Regions from separate parts of the Homo sapiens genome. Here all the other regions are linked to region 3. Evidence: fine-mapped expression QTL. A gene starts in region 3. Each other region holds a variant in brackets. All regions are shown on one strand. Distances are from middle to middle. Region 1 overlaps ZNF605 (zinc finger protein 605). Region 2 overlaps ZNF605 (zinc finger protein 605). Region 3 holds the start of ZNF605 (zinc finger protein 605).

What was found. PIP is the estimated chance that this variant, and not a neighbour inherited with it, causes the effect.
Region 1: its variant is the best candidate, but not a certain one, in a credible set for the expression of ZNF605 in whole blood (TOPMed, PIP 0.58).
Region 2: its variant is the best candidate, but not a certain one, in a credible set for the expression of ZNF605 in prefrontal cortex (CommonMind, PIP 0.58).

The regions. Positions count from the first base shown.
Region 1 is chr12:132,917,975-132,924,462 of GRCh38, forward strand. ZNF605 (zinc finger protein 605) reads right to left here. Exons shown (of 5, transcript NM_183238.4): 5 at 332-6,488. Among named protein-coding and RNA genes, the nearest start is that of CHFR-DT, 33 kb to the left of the region's middle. The variant GCTGGTCTCAAACGC/G (reference allele first, on the strand shown) is at 3,208.
Region 2 is chr12:132,930,221-132,936,708 of GRCh38, forward strand. ZNF605 (zinc finger protein 605) reads right to left here. Exons shown (of 5, transcript NM_183238.4): 4 at 2,815-2,935. Among named protein-coding and RNA genes, the nearest start is that of ZNF605, 23 kb to the right of the region's middle. The variant A/AAC (reference allele first, on the strand shown) is at 3,876.
Region 3 is chr12:132,953,077-132,959,564 of GRCh38, forward strand. It overlaps ZNF605 (zinc finger protein 605), which reads right to left and starts at 3,230. Exons shown (of 5, transcript NM_183238.4): 1 at 3,167-3,230. LOC124903064 (a long non-coding RNA gene) reads left to right here and starts at 3,473. Exons shown (of 2, transcript XR_007063552.1): 1 at 3,473-3,654. RefSeq lists enhancers at 1,948-2,778, 2,207-2,501, 2,779-3,607, 3,361-3,440 and a silencer at 2,861-3,200.

The sequences.
Region 1 (6,488 bases), 35 kb before region 3:
TCTAATTATAGTTACCAGTGCTTTAGAAAACAAACCCACATAATTGCCTATGGGATGGACCAAATGACAGCTAATTGTTCATTGTCCTAAAGCAGGAAAGTTAAAGGGGTGTAAAAAATTAACAGAAGTGGGTGGTCCTGCAAGGAAGGGGGTTAAGTAGACAGGATCAGGCTGGAGACGTTTCAGCTCACTCTCACTGAGGATAAAAGGAACAGACAAGAAACTGAAAGGGAACAGCTGCTTCTTTGGGTGTGGGGGTGTATCTGGATGCTTATGGATGACAACAAATTGAAAACTGATGATAATTCAGATTTAATTTGGGGATACCTGGTTGGAATGGAAACCAGAGTTTATTTGCAAATTGCTCCCAGTGATCACACTCACACATATGAATTCATGAAACAGTTTACTCAGTTAACATTTGCATACAGAGATTTTCTTTTCAAACAGAGCACAGAAGGAAGTGTCAGTAACAGGTCTGACCTCGCACAGCTGCCCATGCAATGATGAGTGGATCAAACACTACGGCTTATACAAGATGCTCCTCACAGAATGAAAAACAGCTGCTCATTTTCAGTTAGCTATTAGCCTTTTAGCCCCACCCTTGTTTTCTCTTTTTTTGAGACGGAGTCTCACTCTGTTGCTCAGGCTGGAGTGCAGTGGTGGTGCCATCTTGGCTCACTGCAACCTCCAACTCCTGGGTTCATGTGATTTGCCCACCTCAGCCTCCCGAGCAGCTGGGTTTACAGGTGCTCCACCACACCCGGCTATTTTTTTTGTTTTGTATGTTTAGTAGAGATAGGGTTTTGCCATGTTGGCCAGGCTGCTCTTGAGCTCCTGAACTCAAGTGATCCACCCACCTTGGCCTCCCAAAGTGCTGGGATGACAGGCGTGAGCCATCGCACCTGGCCAGCCTTACCCTTGTAATGAAGCAGTGAAGTACAGCTGGCCCACATCTCAGCCAACATCATCTTCTTACAGAATCTGCTTCATACAAACGCATTACACACAACAGGACACAATGCACATGCCTTGTTCATACCCTCAGAGCTGCCTGGCAAATACCATGGTTTGGGGACGAATCTACACTAGACCTGCCTGGCTGCAGTGGTAACACTCCATTGCCTAACTGCTCCTTTCACATGAGCACGCACTAATGAAAATAAAAAGTTAATTCACTTCTCCCACCCCCTATTGTAAGTTTAAGCTTGATTTGTTTTTTTAAGTACTTTTAGTGATAGGAATGCTTACTTGCTTTATTAATTATTTTTGTGGAGAACAAAGTGCCACTATGTTGCCCAGGCTGGCCTCAAACTCTTGGGCTCAAGCTCTCCTCTCCTCCCAGCTGGGCCTCCCAAAGTCCTGGGATTGCAGGCATGAGCCACCACATCTGGCCAGTAATGCCTTTTTTTTTTTTTTTTTTTTTTTTGAGATGGAGTCTCGCTTTGTCGCTCAGGCCAGAGTGAGTGCAGTGGCGCGATCTCAGCTCACTGCAAGCTCCGCCTCCCGGGTTCACGCCATTCTCCTGCCTCAGCCTCCCGAGTAGCTGGGACTACAGGCGCCCGCCACCACGCGCGGCTAATTTTTTGTATTTTTAGTAGAGACGGGGTTTCACCTTGTTAGCCAGGATGGTCTCAATCTCCTGACCTCGTGATCCACCCATCTTGGCCTCCCAAAGTGCTGAGATTACAGGCATGAGCCACCATGCCCGGCCCTGGCCAGTAATTCTTAAATGAGAACTTCAAGTTATAAATGTCCCTTCACTTACATTTCTTTTCATCTTAACAGTGAATGCCTCGATAGCTACATTCTTTTTGCTGTGCACATTTCGAGATTTAGGTATCACTAAATAAGTTTGGTGTTCCCTGTTTTTTTGTGTGTGTGTGTGATGGAGTCTTGCTCTGTCACCCAGGCTGGAGTGCAGTGGTGTGATCTCAGCTCACTGCAACATCGGCTTCCTGGGTTCAAGCGATTCTCCTGCCTCAGCCTCCGGAGTAGCTGGGACTACACACGTGCCACCAAGCCCGGCTAATTTTTGCATTTTTAGTAGAGATGGGGTTTCACCATATTGGCCAGGCTGGTCTCGAACTCCTGACCTTGTGATCTGCCTGCCTTAGCCTCCCAAAGTGTTATGATTACAGGTGTGAGCCACCGCGCCCAGCGCCTGATTTATTTATTTTTTTGAGACAGAGCCTCGCTCTATCACCCAGGCTGGAGTGCAGTGGTGTGATCTTGGCTCACTGCAAGCTCCACCTCCCAGGTTCACGCCATTCTCCTGCCTCAGCCTCCTGAGTAGCTGGGACTACAGGCGCTGGCCACCTCACCTGGCTAATTTTTTGTATTTTTAGTAGAGACGGGGTTTCACCGTGTTAGCCAGGATGGTCTCGATCTCCTGACCTCGTGATCCACCCGCCTTGGCCTCCCAAAGTGCTGGGATTACAGGCGTGAGCCACCGCGCCTGGCCTGGTTTATTTAATGTTAGCATTCTGACAAGATGTTAAATGACCCGGATACAATGAGTAATAATTGTGTTCTAAGTTGCAAAGATCCCATAAGGGAAATAAAGAATTATTAAATATCATCACCAACTTCACAGATTTGGTCTCAAAGTAAATCTGCTACATACTAAATAATTTAAATTAATATGGTGATGGAGTGTGTGGCGTTGGAAGAAAACTTGTTGAAGAAAGCTTACTTTATTTTTATTCATTTAAGAGGCAAGGTTTCACTCTGTCACTCAGGCTGGAATGCAGTGGCCCCATCATGGCTCACTGCAGCCTTGAACTCCTGGGCTCAAGTGACCCTTCTGCCTCAGCTTCCCAAGTAGCTGGGATTACAGACATGCACCATCATGGCTAACTTTTTTTTTGAGATGGAGTTTTGTTCTTGTTGCCCAGACTGGAGTGCAATGCCGTGATCTCGGCTCACTGCAACCTCCTCCTCCCAGGTACAAGTGATTCTCTTGTCTCAGCCTCCCAAGTAGCTCGGATTACAGGCATGTGCCACCATGCCCGGCTAATTTTTTTGTATTTAGTAGAGACGGGGTTTCACCATGTTATTCAGGCTGGTCGCGAACTCCTGAACTCAGGTGATCCACCCACCTCGGCCTCCCAAAGTGCTGGGATTACAGGCTTGCGTCACTGCACCCAGCCTCTCATGGCTAATTAAATTTTTTTTTTGTAGAGATGAGTCTTGCTATGTTGTCCA[GCTGGTCTCAAACGC/G]CTGGGCTCAAGCGGTCCTCCCAATTTGGCCTCCCCAAGCACTGGGATTACAGGTGTGAGACACCACCCCCAGTTGAAAAGTTACTTTGGATATAACTGATTTGAATTTTATTCTTGTGAAATAGTGATGAGATTTTATATTGTCTACTTCTAAGCGGCAGACAGTCATCATGAGGCAAATAAAATTTTCTAAGGTAAGGAGAGTGAGAATGGCCTTTCCCCTTTAGTCTATGGCAAAATAAAGGGGGGCATGGGAGAATCCTGATGGTGGAAATCATTTTATTCTCATACACAGGTTATTACAGCACAATTAGGAAGAGACAATCACAACTCACACAATGCTATATTCAAATTATGCCAAAGTCCCAACATATTCATTTCATTTGCAAGTTAATTCCTAAAAGATCAGAGCAGAGTGATACACAAGTTTATTAACACAGACTACAACGTCAATGAAGCCTCCTGGCATTGTCGGAAATAGAAAACATGTATAAAAATCTTCGAAATGCAGGTTAAAATGCAAATCCAAGTGAAAGGAAAAAGCACTACTGTGAAGCCTAACGGCAATTATTTCCCTTCAAAGGAGGTTTGTGTCCAGCTGGAGAGAAGGCCTGGTGGACAGAAGACAAAGGAAGGCAAAATTCCTAAGGGAGAAATTCAAAAAAATGATGGGGGTGCTGCCCTCTGCTGGGCCTCTTTGGCAGTCGACTTCAACTTAATGCATTAGCGCCGTAAGGTTGTAAGAGAAGCAACTCTGGCTTGATCTTAGAAAAGCTGATTTTCTTTTTGGCAGCATATTTCCGGTGAGAACTGATGGGAAAGGTGGTGTGGATTCGTGGACGAAGTCTCTAACGTAATCTTGACTACTGAAGGGTAAAGACTTGCCCACAGGTTAGAGATTACATGAATTATCCACAACGAATGGTAGCAGATGATGGGTCAGGGGTATTTTAATTGTACAGCATAACACTTTAGAGAGCTGGGAAGTATGGGACATCATTCCCGTCTTTCTTCACTCAGTAACTGATTATCTTGTTTCTTGTCCACAGATATTTAACCTAAATAACAATGCTTTTTGAAGGTTGTTTGGCTAACCCAGAGGTAGTAAAAGACTTCATAAGTCTTTCTATTACTGAAGAGGAGCTTAGTAATAACTGCAAGTCTATTTATATATGTAGCAGATGGTAACAATCTCCAGAGCCACTGACATATGCAGCAGAAAAGCACAAAGAACTTTGTATTTGTTATAATTTCTACTGCATTGTCCAGATACAGATAGAAAATACTGATATGTAGTGTGGGGAATCTTGAGACATTTCAGCCTATGCACTATGCGGCACTTGTACTGATAACTGATTATCACAATTTTATTAAATGCTCATCATTTAACAGATGGCACAGAAAATAAATGGCACACTCAGAATATTAACTCAAGAACAATTAATAAAGGCACTATTTACAAATATGTGTTCACAATTAAAGACACCCAACCAGTGGGTTGGGGAAGCACCCAGTAGTAGTTAAGTCTGAAGATCATGGAGAGGGAATGGTGTCAACTGAAACCGAGAGATCTACAGCCATAGATGGGGCTTCCCAAAGGAAGCTGTATCCTTACGGGAACACAGAAGCTACCATGGTCCAGGCAGGAGGAAGGGAACGGTAATAAATAACTTTTTCTCCTCCCACCTCTGGTATCTCCCACTGTTCAAACCTATGAAGAAACCCCAGTCTCTAGAAGACAGCCTCAGGGGGGAGCAGAGCAGAAAATGGGGGAAAAGGGATCAAAGAAATAGGGAATACTCAGCACACATGCAGATCCACAATACATACAATTTCTGTCATGTGCCTGCTACAAATTCAAGCTACCCCGAGCCCTGAAGGAATAGGCTTCTAACTCAGATGATGCAGTCTACTCAACTATATTTAAAAATTCACACTTAAGTGTTATCGTCATCACACTTTACTTCTAAATAAACTCCAAATACGTTATCATTACTTTGGCTTTAAGCAGCCAATTCCCTTTTAAAAAGATTTTAAAAAGAGAGAAATATCTTTTATATTTACCCACATATTCACCATTTTCAGAACTTCATTCCTTTGTACAGACCCAAACTTAAGTTTTGTATTATTTTCCTGCTGCCCTCAAACATCCTTTAATGTTTCCCAAAGACAGGTCTACAGGTAATAAAATTACCTTTGATTTAGTTTCTCAGAAACAGTCTTTATTTTGCCTTCATTTTTGAAAACGTTTTTGACAGTAACAGAATTCTAGGTTGCAGGGTTTGTTGTTTATTTCATTAAGGAATTTAGAGATAATACTCCATTGTCTTATAGCTTGCATAGTTCTCACCAGAAATATGCTGCCATTCTTTGTTCATGTGTATGTATTATCTTTTTTTCTCAAGGTGTTTTAAAAGTATTCTGTTTATCAGTGCTTTTCATGAATGTGACTCTGAGGTGCACTGCTGTGATGTAAATTATGTTTATTCTACTTCAGGTCATTTGAGCTTCTTGAATATGTGGGGGTATTGTTTTCACCAGATTTGGAAAATCTTTAGCCATTATTTATTCAAATACTTCTTCATGCCTCTTCATTTTCTCCTCTCCTTCTGGGACTCCAGTTAAACATATATTACACTACTGTAATGGTTTTCCTATTCTCTTCCTCTTCTCTAAGTCTTTTTTTCTCTCTGTATATCACTTTGGTAGTTTTTATTCTTACTCTTCAAGTTCATTGATTTTTTCTTCTTTTTCTGTATCTAATCTCTCCACTCGGGATTTTAACAAAATCAGAAGTTGATTTCATCCCTAGAAGTTCCATTTTGGCCAGTAAAAATATCTCTTATACCTCAGGTTTCATCAATCTTATGTTTTCCTCTACTTTATATTTACAATAGCTCTTTTAATATCCTTGTCTACTAATTCCATCACCTCTGTCTTTTCTGGGTTTCTACTGATTTTTCTCCTGGTTATAAGTCATATTTTATTGCTTCTTTGCATAACACATTAGTTTTTTTGGATGCCGGACACTGTAGGTCCAGAGTAGCTTTTAATCTAGAGTTAATTAGCTGCACTACTAAAACAAAACCTTTCTGAGAATTCTACCTGATGCTCCATGTGTTTCCACTCTGTTTCCACTCTGGCTGCTGAGAACATAAACTATTCCCAGCCCTGCATGAGTTCCAGGAATTGTTCAGCCTGCTGCTTTCCAGTGCTTCTTTTCCTGGCCTCAGTGCAAGTCAGTACTAAGTCAAAGGACTCAGGGGA
Region 2 (6,488 bases), 23 kb before region 3:
ATGGGGTCTTGCTATGTTGCCCAGGCGGGCCTGCAACTCCCAGCCTCAAGCAATACTCCTGTCTTGGCCTCCCAAAGCACTGGGATTACAGGCATGAGCCACCATGTCACGCCCACCAAAATGTCATTCTGATGGCACACCAACAAATACCCTCTTTATTTCTTTCCTTCATAGTACTTATCAAATAGGTAATCCTCTTACTCGTGTCTCTCCCAGTAGAATGTAAACTGTATGAGTGTAGGGAACAGGTTTGTCTTTTTCACTAATGTACCCCCACTGCATAGCACATAACAAGCCCTCAATATAGGTAGGATAAATATTATTCACTTGTCATTGAGCTTCTAATATAGTTCCTTTTGGTATCATTAATCTTGGCAATTAATTTTGCACTTTAACACAAATGCTTCATGTTCAAATACTGCATCACTAAATATTTTATGGTTTTATATTGTCTTCTAAATTAAAATCCTATAAAGTTATTTCATGACTCATTTCAATTCCTCTCATTCCACATGAGAAGTGGTTCTAAATTAATAGGGGAATATAACAACTATCTTTACAGCTTTTCCAAACTGCACACACTCAGACCTAAACAACAATGGGAATGGTGCCCAGACATCTGTAACCCGAAATATTTCCCTGCTGTGCATTATGCCTCACCCCTGTAATCTCAGTTTCCCTGCTGTGCATTATGGCTCTTCCTGTAATCCCAGCACTTGGGGAGGCCAAGGCGGGAGGATCACTTGAACCCAGAGTTTGAGACCAGCCTGGGCAACATAGTGAGATCCTGTCTCTCCAGAAAAACCAAATTTTTAAAAATTAGCTTGGTGTGGTGGTAGTCTCAGCTACTGGGGAGGCTAAAGTGGGAGGAGCTCATGAGTCCAGATAGGTTAAGGCTGCAGTAAGCTGTGACTGCGCCACTGTACTCCAACCTGCGTGACAAAGTGAGACCTTGTCTCAAAAAAATTTTTTAAATAAATATTTCCCAGGGTAGAGGCTTAGATGGAAACTTTTCTACTGAAGGGACATCTGATAAACAAGACCTTTCCTTATCTGGGTCCATAATAACCAATTTTTAAAAATCAAGTAAGTGCATACCACAAATTCCACAGAGAACACAGACTACGTTACTGGCAATCTCTCTTTATGGGGAAAAAAATCTTAGGACTAGTTGTTTTAGGAATTTCAGATAATGTCCATCAGGCCTGAGTTACTATACTATAGATGCTACGTGGATAGAGATTTCAGAGAAAGCTGTGAGTCAAGGAACATTCACTGAAGTTGAAGAAAAGAGCTCAAAGTGAAGTCTACCTGGGGAAAATGTACCATAATCAGAGGTACAGATGCAGAGAAAAATTTCAGAAGAGCGTGTGAGGAAGAATCTAGCTCAGATGGAGTTAATAATGACTCTTGAGCACAAATCTAGCTCAAATGGAGTTAATAATGACTCTTGAGCATAGAAAAATAAGTGGAGAGATAAGATGTTCCCATACCATGAGATTCTTCAACAAAAACGGAGATTAAATATCACACAGCAGGTAATGGAGACTTAAACCCACCTGACTATGTGATGGTATGAGAGAGAAGCTTTAGAGAAGTTAAACATCAAATGTACCAGAAAGATGCACTGGGAACTGACTTGAAAATCCTTAGTTTGTACAGAGGAAGGTAAGAAGCAAAATCTCCTTACTATGTTTAAGGTATTAGGGTTTTGTGTGTGTGTGTTTTTGTTTTTAGAGACAGGGTCTCACTCTGTTGCCTAGCACATCCATGGCACACTGCAGCTTCCAGCTCCTTGGGTCAAGCAATCCTCCCACCTCAGCCTCCCAGGTAGCTGGCACTAGAGGTGCACACCACCATATTTGGCTGAATTATTATTATTATTGTTAGGTATTATTAGTAGTAGTAGATATGGGGTCTTGCTTTGTTGCCCAGGTTGGTCTCAAACTCCTGGCCTTAAGTGACTGTCGTGCCCTGCCCTCTCCCCAACCTCCACAGCATGAGGATTACAGTATGAGCTACTGCGCCCAGCCTAGATTTTCACTCTGTATCAGTGGGTTCATCTTCTACTCTCTGTGGTTTTAAAATAGAAATATATCAAATTAGAGGAAGAGAAGAAAAATAATAAATTAAAAGTTTGAAGTTTAAATAAACTCAAAGGCAATCAGTGTTATCTAAAAGAAGAAAAAAATTATGAATTCATAAAGAGAGCCTTAACTAAGAAAGTGGGGTTGTAAATGGCCACCAATCTATGCCACTGAATAAGAGGGATACATTTCATCATAAACTCCATGGAGAAAAGACACATCCCGATGTGGAGACCAGGTTATGGAGCACATCCATTAAAACTCATGTCACCAATCTTGAGTCAACTCTAAAGATTCAGGAACTTTAAACACAGTTTTATAAACAACACTTTAAAAGTGCCCACCTGTCATCAAAAACCTGAGATAAAATGTTCACTGTATCTCATAAACCTGATTATTCCTCACCTGAAAAGTTCTGATTTAGGATTTCTTGACCTATTATCCATGGATCTTGTTGTTCCAGTTTGAACATTGCATCAGGTTTGAGAATTTGAAAACCTGTCGATTGGAAACACAGAGGACTTGGACCTAACTGCCTGGGCTAAGAGTCTTAAATATGTAGAATGTTTTATTATAAAGGCTGCAAAATAAAGCAAGTGAATGAAAATCTTTCAATTCAGTATAAAAGTCAAATAATCTTTGACATGTAAAACTTACATCCAAAATAAACAAACACCTCACAGGCCAGTTACTGGCCATACACTAAGTTACATAAGAATGTTCTTACCCAAGAAAACCAGATTGCTATAGTTCTCCAACATCACATCTCTGTACAAGTTCTTCTGAGTAGGATTAAGTAGCTGCCATTCCTCCAGCGTGAAATCCACAGCCACATCCTCAAATGATATCTGGAAAAGCATAATCCCTGTTAAACCTGAAGTGGTTCTCATTTGGTCTTGTAAAATACTTTCTTCTGTATTTGTGGTAGGTGGCCTCTAAGATGGCCCCAGTGACCTCTGACTCCGGTATTCATGCTTTTGCATAATCCTCCCCTCTTGACCGTGGGCTGGACTCACTGACTCATTGTCCTGAACAGAACAGGGAAACATGATGAGATGCCACTTCCAAGACTAGGTTAGAAAGAAATGCAACTTCTATCCTGGGCACTCTCTCTCTCTGGAGGAGTCTGGCTGCTGTGTTGTAAGGCCGCCATGTGGAAGCTCATGTGCCGTGGAACTGAGGCTTCCCAACAGCCACTGAGTGAGCCTGGAGGAGCCAGCTCCTTCCTCGCTGCAGCCCTTCTCAACACCTTCATCACTGCATCATGTGAGACCCTCAACCAGAACCAACTGGGCAAGTACCTGGCAGATTCCAAAACCCAGAAACAGATCAATGTTTGTTGTTTTCAGCCCTTGAGGTTTGGGGTAATTTGTGACACAATAATGAATAACCAATATAATCTAATATAATAAATATAATAATCTTGCATTATGCCTTGAGGAAGGAATGTTTTAAAAATATTTATCATTGTGAATTCATTCATCCATGTACCTATCCACTGAACAAGAAACCAGAATAGGTTGTCTTTAAACAATACAGTGGTTCTCAAAGAAGGTGCCACTAGTATTTGAGAACCATTCTTAGGTAAGGAATACTGTTCCATGCAGTTGAGCCCTTCAGCATGCCTGGCCTCTGTCTGCTAATGACAGTAATATCTCTCAGTCACTGGCTGGGCACGGTGGCTTATGCCTGTAATCCCAGCACTTTGGGAGGCTGAGGTGGGCGGATCACCTGAGGTCAGGAATTCAAGACCAGCCTGGCCAACATGGTGAAACCCCAACTCTATTA[A/AAC]ACACACACACACACACATGCACACACACACAAATTAGCTGGGGGTGGTGGTGGGCACCTGCAATCCCAGCTACCAGGGAGGCTGAGGCAGGAGAATCACTTGAACCTGGGAGGTGGAGGTTGCAGTGAGCCAAGATCGTGCACCTGCATGCAGCCTGGGCAACAGAGCAAGACTCTGTCTCAAATAAATAAATAAATAAATAAACAACAACAAAAACAAAAACACTCTCTTTCCTCTGGGAGTGATTCTGCTCCCAAGTAAGAACTGGCCAGCTATTTTAGGTATCTTCCAAAACACACATATTGAGCAATTAAGATTCCAGGAACCATCTGGGTGTGGTGGCTCACACCTGAAATCTCAGCACTTTGGGAGGCCAAGGCAGGTGGATCACCTGAGGTCAGGAGTTGGAGACCAGCCTGGCCAGCACTGTAAAACCCCATCTCTACCAAAAATACAAAAATTAGCCAAGTGTGGTGGTGTGTGCCTGTAATCCCAGCTACTCGGGAGGCTGAGACAGGAGAATAGCTTGAACCCAGAAGGTAGAGGTTGCAGTGAGCTGAGATTGTGCCGCTGCACTCCAGCCTGGTGACAGAGCAAGATTCCGTCTAAAAAAAAAAAAAAAAAAAGATTCCAGGAACCATAACAGGTACTAGAAATTTAAAAATGAGTAGAAAAAAATCACATTCTCAAGTACCTTTCAGGCCAGAGTGAATAAGGTTACAGGGCTATGAAGCTAGCATTTACAGAATATAGAGACAAAACGGGGATAAAAACACTGGATTTAACAACACTGGGTTAGGTGCTGTAAAGACAGTAAGGCTTAGAAAGGGTCTTTAGAAAGTCCTGGTTACAGAGGGGGATGAGGAAAAGGACACTCTCAAGGCAGCAGCATGAGCAAAGACATGGAAATAAAGTGTGTTTTCTGAGGGATGAAAGTTCAGGAATATAAGAGAGGGAGTGGGAGCGGTGGGAATGGTCCTGGCCTCTTTAAAAGGGAACGTGGAAACCTAGAGAGGTAAGCAGAGGCCAGCCTTCAGCTGGACTCAAGTAAATTTGAGCATTCCAGTCCCAGCAGCTACAAGGGACACAGGAAAAAGGAGGAAAGCTTAGAATAAGCCCAAGCATAGGGGACTAATAGGTTATTTTCCCTCATAAAGCTGGAACACAAGGAGTACTCCGTGTGTGGGTCAATGAAAAAAAAATCAAAGAAAATCAATTTCTTGCCTCAAATGTTAGTGTTACACAAAGAGGTCAAAAATTGTCCCTGAGAATTATAACAAGCTGGATTTATATGGGTGTGTGGGCTCAACTCCAGTATAGATGTGTTTTGCAAAAACCTTAAGCACAGAGAGTTCTAAAGTGTTTTTGAGGGGGCCATGCATTCAGGCATCCGGCAGAATCAAATGCAAATTCTATTTAGAGAAAGAGATCAAAATAATTCTCACAAATAAAGATTCAAGAAAAATGAGTACAGAGTAAAAGAGAAACCGGAATGCACACATAAAAAAAAAATCATCCAGGTGCGGTGGCTCACGCCTGTAACCCCAGCACTTTGGGAGGCCGAGGCAGGTGGATCACGAGGTAAGGAGATCGAGACCATCCTGGCTAACATGGTGAAACCCCATCTCTACTAAAAATACAAAAAAATTAGCCGGGCATGGTGGTGGGCGCCTGTAGTCCCAGCTACTCGGGAGGCTGAGGCAGGAGAATGGCGTGAACCCGGGAGGCGGAGGTTGCAATGAGCAGAGATCGTACCACTGGACTCCAGCCTGGGTGACAGAGTGAGACTCTGTCTTAAAAAAAAAAAAAAAAAAATTAGCCGGGCGTGGTGGTGGGTGCCTGTAGTCCCAGCTACTCGGGAGGCTGAGGCAGGAGAATGGCGTGAACCCAGGAGGTGGAGCTTGCAGTGAGCCGAGATGGCGCTACTGCACTCCAGCCTGGGCGACAGAGCAAGACTCCATCTCAAAAAAAACCAAAAAAAAACAAACAGGAGTGGTATAAAAGACTTAGGATATTTGAACTGTCAGCACAGAATATAAAATAAATATATTTAATATATTCAAAGAAATGAGAGGTTAATGAAAGTACGAAAAATAATCAGAAGACTATAAAAATGAATAAGCAGATTTGAAAAAAATGAAATATAACTTCTAGAGATAAAATGCATAATAAGTAAAGTTAAGAAGTCAATGGAAGGGCTTAAGAGTAGATTAGGAAAAGATAAAGAGAGAATAAGTGAATTGGAAGATAGACCAGAAGAAATAATAAAGCAAAAGCTCAGAAATGGAAAATATAAAGCAACCCCAGCTACATGCTGCCTACGAAAGAGGCACATTTATATTCAAAATAGTTTAAACATAAAAGGACTCACATTACTTGATTTCAAGACTTCCTATGCAACCACAGTAATTAAGGCAGGATGGCATTTGTGAAAGGATAAAAACACAAGTTAATGGAACAGAACACAGAACTCAAAAATAAGCCCCTACAAATATACTCAATTGTTTCACAAAAGTACAAAAAGCAATTCTACAGTCTTTGTGACAAATAATGTCTCAACAATTTTATACTCATAAGCAAAAGGGATCTCAACACATACCTCACACCTTATA
Region 3 (6,488 bases):
CCACATCCCAAGACATCCCCAGATCACTGAATCCAATAGGCCTGCTTCACAGACCTCCAGACCACACAACCACCGAACCCCATCAACCCCACTCTCACTCACCCCATGTGCCCCCATCACTCCCACAGGACCACAATGGCTGACTTCACAGGCCACCCAGTCTCTCTCCCCAAGAGGCCGCCCCTCCAGGGCCTTCAGAGACACACACTATGGGTTCCCCAGTGACCATCCAACAAAGACCCCAGGCGGTAACTCTAGTGGCCCCACAACAGCCTCCAGAAACACCTGACCACAGACTCCACAGACTGGCACAGTATAGACCACTAATCACAGATACCCAAAGGCCACTAACTTATTATTATCTTTTTTAAGATGGAGTCTCACTCTGTCATCAGGCTGGAGTGCAGTGGCAAAATCTCGGTTCACTGCAACCTCTGCCTCCTGGGTTCAAGCAATTCTCCTGCCTCAGCCTCCTGAGTAGGTGGGATTACAGGCGCCCACCACCATGCCCAGCTAATTTTTGTATTTTTAGTAGAGACGGGGTTTCACCATGTTGGCCAGGATGGTGTGGATCTCTTGACCTCCTGATCTGCCTGCCTCAGCCTCCCAAAGTGCTGGGATTACAGGTGTGAGCCACGGTGCCCAGCTAAGGCCACTAACTTCTAACTCCACATTCACCGCAAATGGCAAACAAACTCTTAGGCTCCCCAGGCTTCCCTCTCACTGACACCCACAGGGTCCCCAATTTCTCACCCTCACCCACCCGCACACCCATCACAGACACTTGCACGCATACTTGGCATTGATCCCAAGCCCTCCGATCATTCCTCCTCACAGACCTCACTGCCCACCCCATCAGTCATTCAGTCATCTCTGGTACCCGGTCACTAATACAAACAAGCTCCTTCTCACCTGGTTCCAACACCCTCAAATAACAAAGCCAATGCCAGGGCACGAGCCAATAAAACTGTCCCCCATTCAACGATGTACACTGGACCCTTTATTCCTAATCCTCCACAGGCCCCCAGACACTTACCATTCCTACGTCACACCATAGACCTCACAGGCCAGGCAGAGTTATCCCTACAGGCCCAACTGATGACTGGACCTCAGTGACTCCCACAGGGCTTTTAAATACAGATGCCAGACACCATAATCACCAGCACCCCCAAAGCCCCACTTAAGAATCACCACAGACTGAAACCCCAAACTCTGAGTCCCAAAGGATCCCCACAGAACTCAGATACTCCTGCAGATGAGCTGGGGAGGGGAGGAGAAGGGTGGGGAGCGGGGGAGAAGGGGCTTCAGTCACTCCTGCAGGTGAGGTGGGGAGGGGATGAGAAGGATGGGGGAGGAGAAGGGTAGGGAGGGGAGGAGAAGGGTGGGGAGGGGAGGAGAAGGGGCTTCTGTCCTGGGACGAACACACTGGTCTCCATTCACTCACTTCATCAGGTGCCCAAGTCAGGCGCTCACAGAGCCCCTCCCCTGTAACTGACATTCTGAGGCTTGCGCCACAGACCCCCTAAATTAGACCCCAGTCACTCAATGCCCAGGGATCCCTAATCCCTTATCCCCGGGGCCCCCAAGCATTCGCCCCCATGACACCCCATTCTCTAATCCACTCCATGCTGGAGCATTCACTGACATTCCCACAGGCCCTCCCAAACACCACCTGGAAAGGGATTGTGGGGCTCTGCACAAATGCCGATCCCGCAGGCCCCTCCAATGACGCCAAGTATGACCCCCGTTGTCCACGCACTCACAACTTGCAACAGGTCCACCATTAACTTACATCCAGACTCCCTTGTCACAAATACACAGCGCCATTCCTAATGCTTCCATCATAAGATCCCCAAACACAAGCACAGAAACAAACCCCAGCCACTCGCCAGCATAGGCCACCCCATACTCGCCTCCGCTATTGGAGACAGGGGTTGAAAGAGCAACCACTGTTATTCAGCTGTCAAATAAAACATACAACTGGACAGAGCAAAGAAAGACGGTTCCAAAGGGTTATTGGAAGTGGGGAAAAAAAGACGCGGAAGAGGGTTGGGAAGGGGAAGGAGAACGGGCTTCTGGGAAGAACCGTGAAGCCACGAGACTCACGTGCATCTCTGCAAGGCAAAAAGGGTTTTTCTTTCACAGAGAGGTGTGAACAAGGTTAGCAAAGACCAGGCCTGGCCAAGCGAGGTGGAAGTGCGGGCGACCAGACAGCAGAGCGGGGAAAGCTTGACCCTGAGCCAGCCTGTTCTCAGGCGAGGCTGCGTGTTGGCTCAGGCTGGGGATGGGCCAAAGCTCAAGAAAATGGGGAAAGGAAAGAAGCTTAGCTAAAGTTTGCTTAAGGAGCATTTTGCTCCGACCGCTCGGTGGAGTTCAGCCAGTCACCGATGAGGCAAGCGACGGCAACGTGGCAGGTCTGTGTGAACAAGGGGCATCCTGGAGGCTGACCAAAGTCATATAGGGAACGGGAGATCTTTGCAGTGAGCCATTTGCTGGAACCCAAAAGGGTGGGAAATTCCTCAACCTTCGCTGTTTTCCAGGAGCACAGGGCTCTGGTGAAATCCAACACTGTCACAGCCGGCAGGCTTTCCAGTGAATGGAACCCACACAAGCAAGCCCCTAAGCCCTCCAACGCAGGCCCCCGCAGAAGCCTCATCATTCACCCCGCTGGCCTCCAATGCTCACCCAAAGGCATCCAAATCATTCATCAGCAGAGTCCTAATCGCTGCAGACAAATCCTCCACACGGCCTCCCAGGGGCCCCTCTCCCCTGGGGCCAAGGGCAACCTCGCGTCCCCTTGCCCCGCCCGTGCTGCACCCCAAGTCTACAGCGACCTCCATAGGCCCCCAGTGAATCGCCCAGCTGACCCCAAATCTCCCCCGACACCCACATTCAGCGCCCCGCCGCCGCCCGCCCTACAGCCCCCACCCCACCCTCTGCCTCCCACCCCCGCGCGCCCCCAGAGCCCCCGCCTGAGGCCCGCCTTCCGCGCATGCGCCCAGGCCGGTCCGCAGGCCTTTCTCGCCCCAGCCGGCAGCCAGCTCGTTCGCGCTGGGGTCACCGCGAGCCGGTCCGCAGCGGGGTCACCGCGATCCCCGGCGCAGACACAGAGGCCGCCCCCAGCCCCGCCGCCTCGTGGTCCCGCCCCCGCTGCACGCTCCCTTACCCCTCGGACCTCGCAGGGCCGCGGCGGACACGGCCCGATCGGGGACGTGAACGCGCAGAACTACATTTCCCAGCGTCCCGCTCGCGCTGGAACTACACTTCCCGGGGGGCTCGGCGGTGCACCCGCCGGGGTCGCGGATTGGAGGTTTCCGGTTGGAAAAGCCCCTTGGCGGCTAACTGGGGAGGACTGGAAGAAATCTAGGATGGAGCCAGCACTGCTGGCCCAACATGTCTGTGAGAGAACCTAAAGGCGCCTCCAGGAGGAAGCGTCTGCATCTTTTCCTTGTTTTTTTTTTTTTTTTTTTTGGAGGCAGGGTCTCGCTCTGTCACCCAGTGGGGAGTGCAGTGGTGCCATGAACGCTCATTGCAGCCTCAGGCTGGTCTCCGACTCCTGGGTTCAAATGATCCTCCTGCCCCAGCCTCCCAAAATGCTGGAATTACAGGCATGAGTCACTGCGTCCGGCTGCTTTTCCATTTTTCATCGTAGCTGTAAGTAATATCGGTAAATGTTAGTGTTACGTGCGTCCGTATAGGAGACCACCTGAGCAGGCTAAGTGTGAGCAACACGCCTGTTTATTCACTTGGGTGCAAGTGGGCTGAGTCTGAGAAAGGAGTCAGCGGAGGGTGGTGGGCTTGTCATTGGTTCTTATAGCTTTGGGATAGGATAGGCGGTGGAGTCAGCAGCAATTTTTTTTTTTTTTTTTTTTTTTGAGACAGAGTCTCACTCTGTCGCCGAGGCTGGAGTGCAGTGGCGCGATCTCGGCTCACTGCAAGCTCCGCCTCCCGGGTTCACGCCATTCTCCTGCCTCATCCTCCTGAGTAGCTGGGACTACAGGCACCCGCCACCACGCCCGGCTAATTTTTTTGTATTTTTAGTAGAGACGGGGTTTCACTGTGTTAGCCAGGATGGTCTTGATCTCCTGACCTCGTGATCCGCCCTCCTCGGCCTCCCAAAGTGCTGGGATTACGGGCGTGAGCCACCGCGCCCGGCCTCAGCAGCAATTTTTTGCGGGCAGGGGAGGATGTTACAAAGTACATTCACAAGGGCGGGGAGGGTGTATTGTCACAAGGGCGGAGAGGAATGTTACAAAGTACATTCACAAGGACCGGGAATATTACAAAGTACATTATCACAAGGGTGGGGGAATGTCACGATGGCTTGACCATGGTGCGGCCAGCTCAGAGGACCTTACATTTAGTACATCCAATCCAGCAGTATTGACAAAAGGAATGAAAATAGATGATAGGGTTGGGCGCGGTGGCTCACGGCTGTAATCCCAGCACTTTGGGAGGCTGAGGTGGGCGGATCACCAGGTCAGGAGATTGAGACCATCCTGGCCAACACGGTGAAACCCCGTCTCTACTAAAAATACAGAACATTAGCTGGGCGTGGTGGTGGGCGCCTGTAATCCCATCTACTCGGGAGGCTGAGGCAGGAGAATCACTTGAACTCGGGAGGCGGGGGTTGCGGTGAGCCATCATGCCGCTGCACTCTAGCCTGGCAACAGAGTGAGACCTCATCTCAAGAAAAAAAAAAGGAAAAATAAATGAGATGAGGACATTACAGGGAAATAAAATATATTTATGGATATATAAAGCAGTGGCTTGTCCCTGTAGTCCCAACTACTGGAGGCTGAGGCAGGAGGATTGCCTGAGCCTGGGAGGTTGAGGCTGCAGTGAGCTATGATGGCAACACTGCACTCCAGCCTGGGCCACAGAGGGAGACACCTTCTCTTAAAAATATTTTTTGGCCAGGCCAGGCGCGGTGGCTCACACCTGTAATCCCAGCACTTTGGGAGGCTAAGGCGGGCGGATCACCTGAGGTCAGGAGTTCGAGACCAGCCTGACCAACATGGTGAAACCCCATCTGTACTAAAAATATAAAAATTAGCCAGGTGTGGTGGCTCATGCCTGTAATGGCTCATACCTGTAATCCCACCTACTCAGGAGGTGGAGGCATGAGAATTGCTTGAACCCAGGAGGCAGAGGTTGCAGTGAGCTGAGATCTCACCACTGCACTCCACCCTGGGAGACAGAGTGAGATTCTGTCTAAAAAAAAAAAAAAAGAAAAAGAAAAACTGTAAAAGCATATTAGTTTTTTAAAATAAAAATGGGGAGAAACAGGAAACACACTCACAATTGGCAATTTAAAAAATTGAAATGGCCATAAAGACCAAATTAAAGTATATATGAAATAATATTTTGCTCAATTCTATATTAGTAAATTTGGAGCCTGTGAGAGATGGAGTTTTGCTCTTGTCGCCCAGGCTGGAGTGCAGTGGCACAATATCGGCTCACTGCAGCCTCCGCCTCCTGAGTTCAAGTGATTCTCCTGCCTCAGCCTCCCGAGTAGCTGGGATTGCAGGCGTGCGCCACCACGCCCGGCTAATTTTTGTATTTTTAGTAGAGACGTGGTTTCACCATGTTGGTCAGGCTGATCTTGATCTCTTAACCTCGTGATCCGCCTGCCTCGGCCTCCCGAAGTGCTGGGATTACAGGCGTGAGCCACTGCGCCCAGCCACTCCCAGCTACTTTTTGTATTTTTAGTAGAGATGGGTTTCACCATGTTGGCAAGGCTGGTCTCAAACTCCTGACCTCTGGTGATCCATGCGTCTCGGACTCCCAAAGTGCTGGGATTACAGACCTGAGCCACCGTACCCAGCCCACATTGCCCTGCTTCTAACTGAGATTCAACTTTATTTAAGCAAACCAATTCCATGCTCAACAGAGCTAAAATTAAAATTCTGCTTTAAGGTAGTTTTGTTTTTGTTCTCAGAAAATTTTGCTGTTCACAGATTTATGATTTTCACTTTTCTCCGAGGTTAAGCGTGTCATTTATTAAATGACTTACTAGAATTTATACGCCTTTTTTTTTTTTTTTTTTTTGAGATGGAGTCTTGCTCTGTCACCCAGGCTGGAGTGCAGTGGCGCGATCTCAGTTCACTGCTACCTCTGCCTCCTGGGTTGAAGCAATTCTCCCGCCTCTGCCCCCCGAGTAGCTGGGATTACAGGCACCCACCATCATGCCTGGCTAATTTTTTGTATTTTTGTAGAGACGAGGCTTCACCATGTTGGCCAGGCTGGTGTCGAACTCATGACCTCAGGTGATCCGCCTGTCTTGGCCTCCCAAAGTGCTGGGATTACAGGCATGAGCCACTGAGCATGGCCATGGCCTTTTCTTTCATTCCAATTTTGGTCAGGAAAGAAAACAGTTTCTCTCTCTAAAAAAAAATTCCATGGCTTAAGTAAAACTTGTAAGTTTAAAAAAAAAAAAAACTGGCTAAACTCTTAAGTTCAGTTCATTTGGCACATCTGAAGTCCCA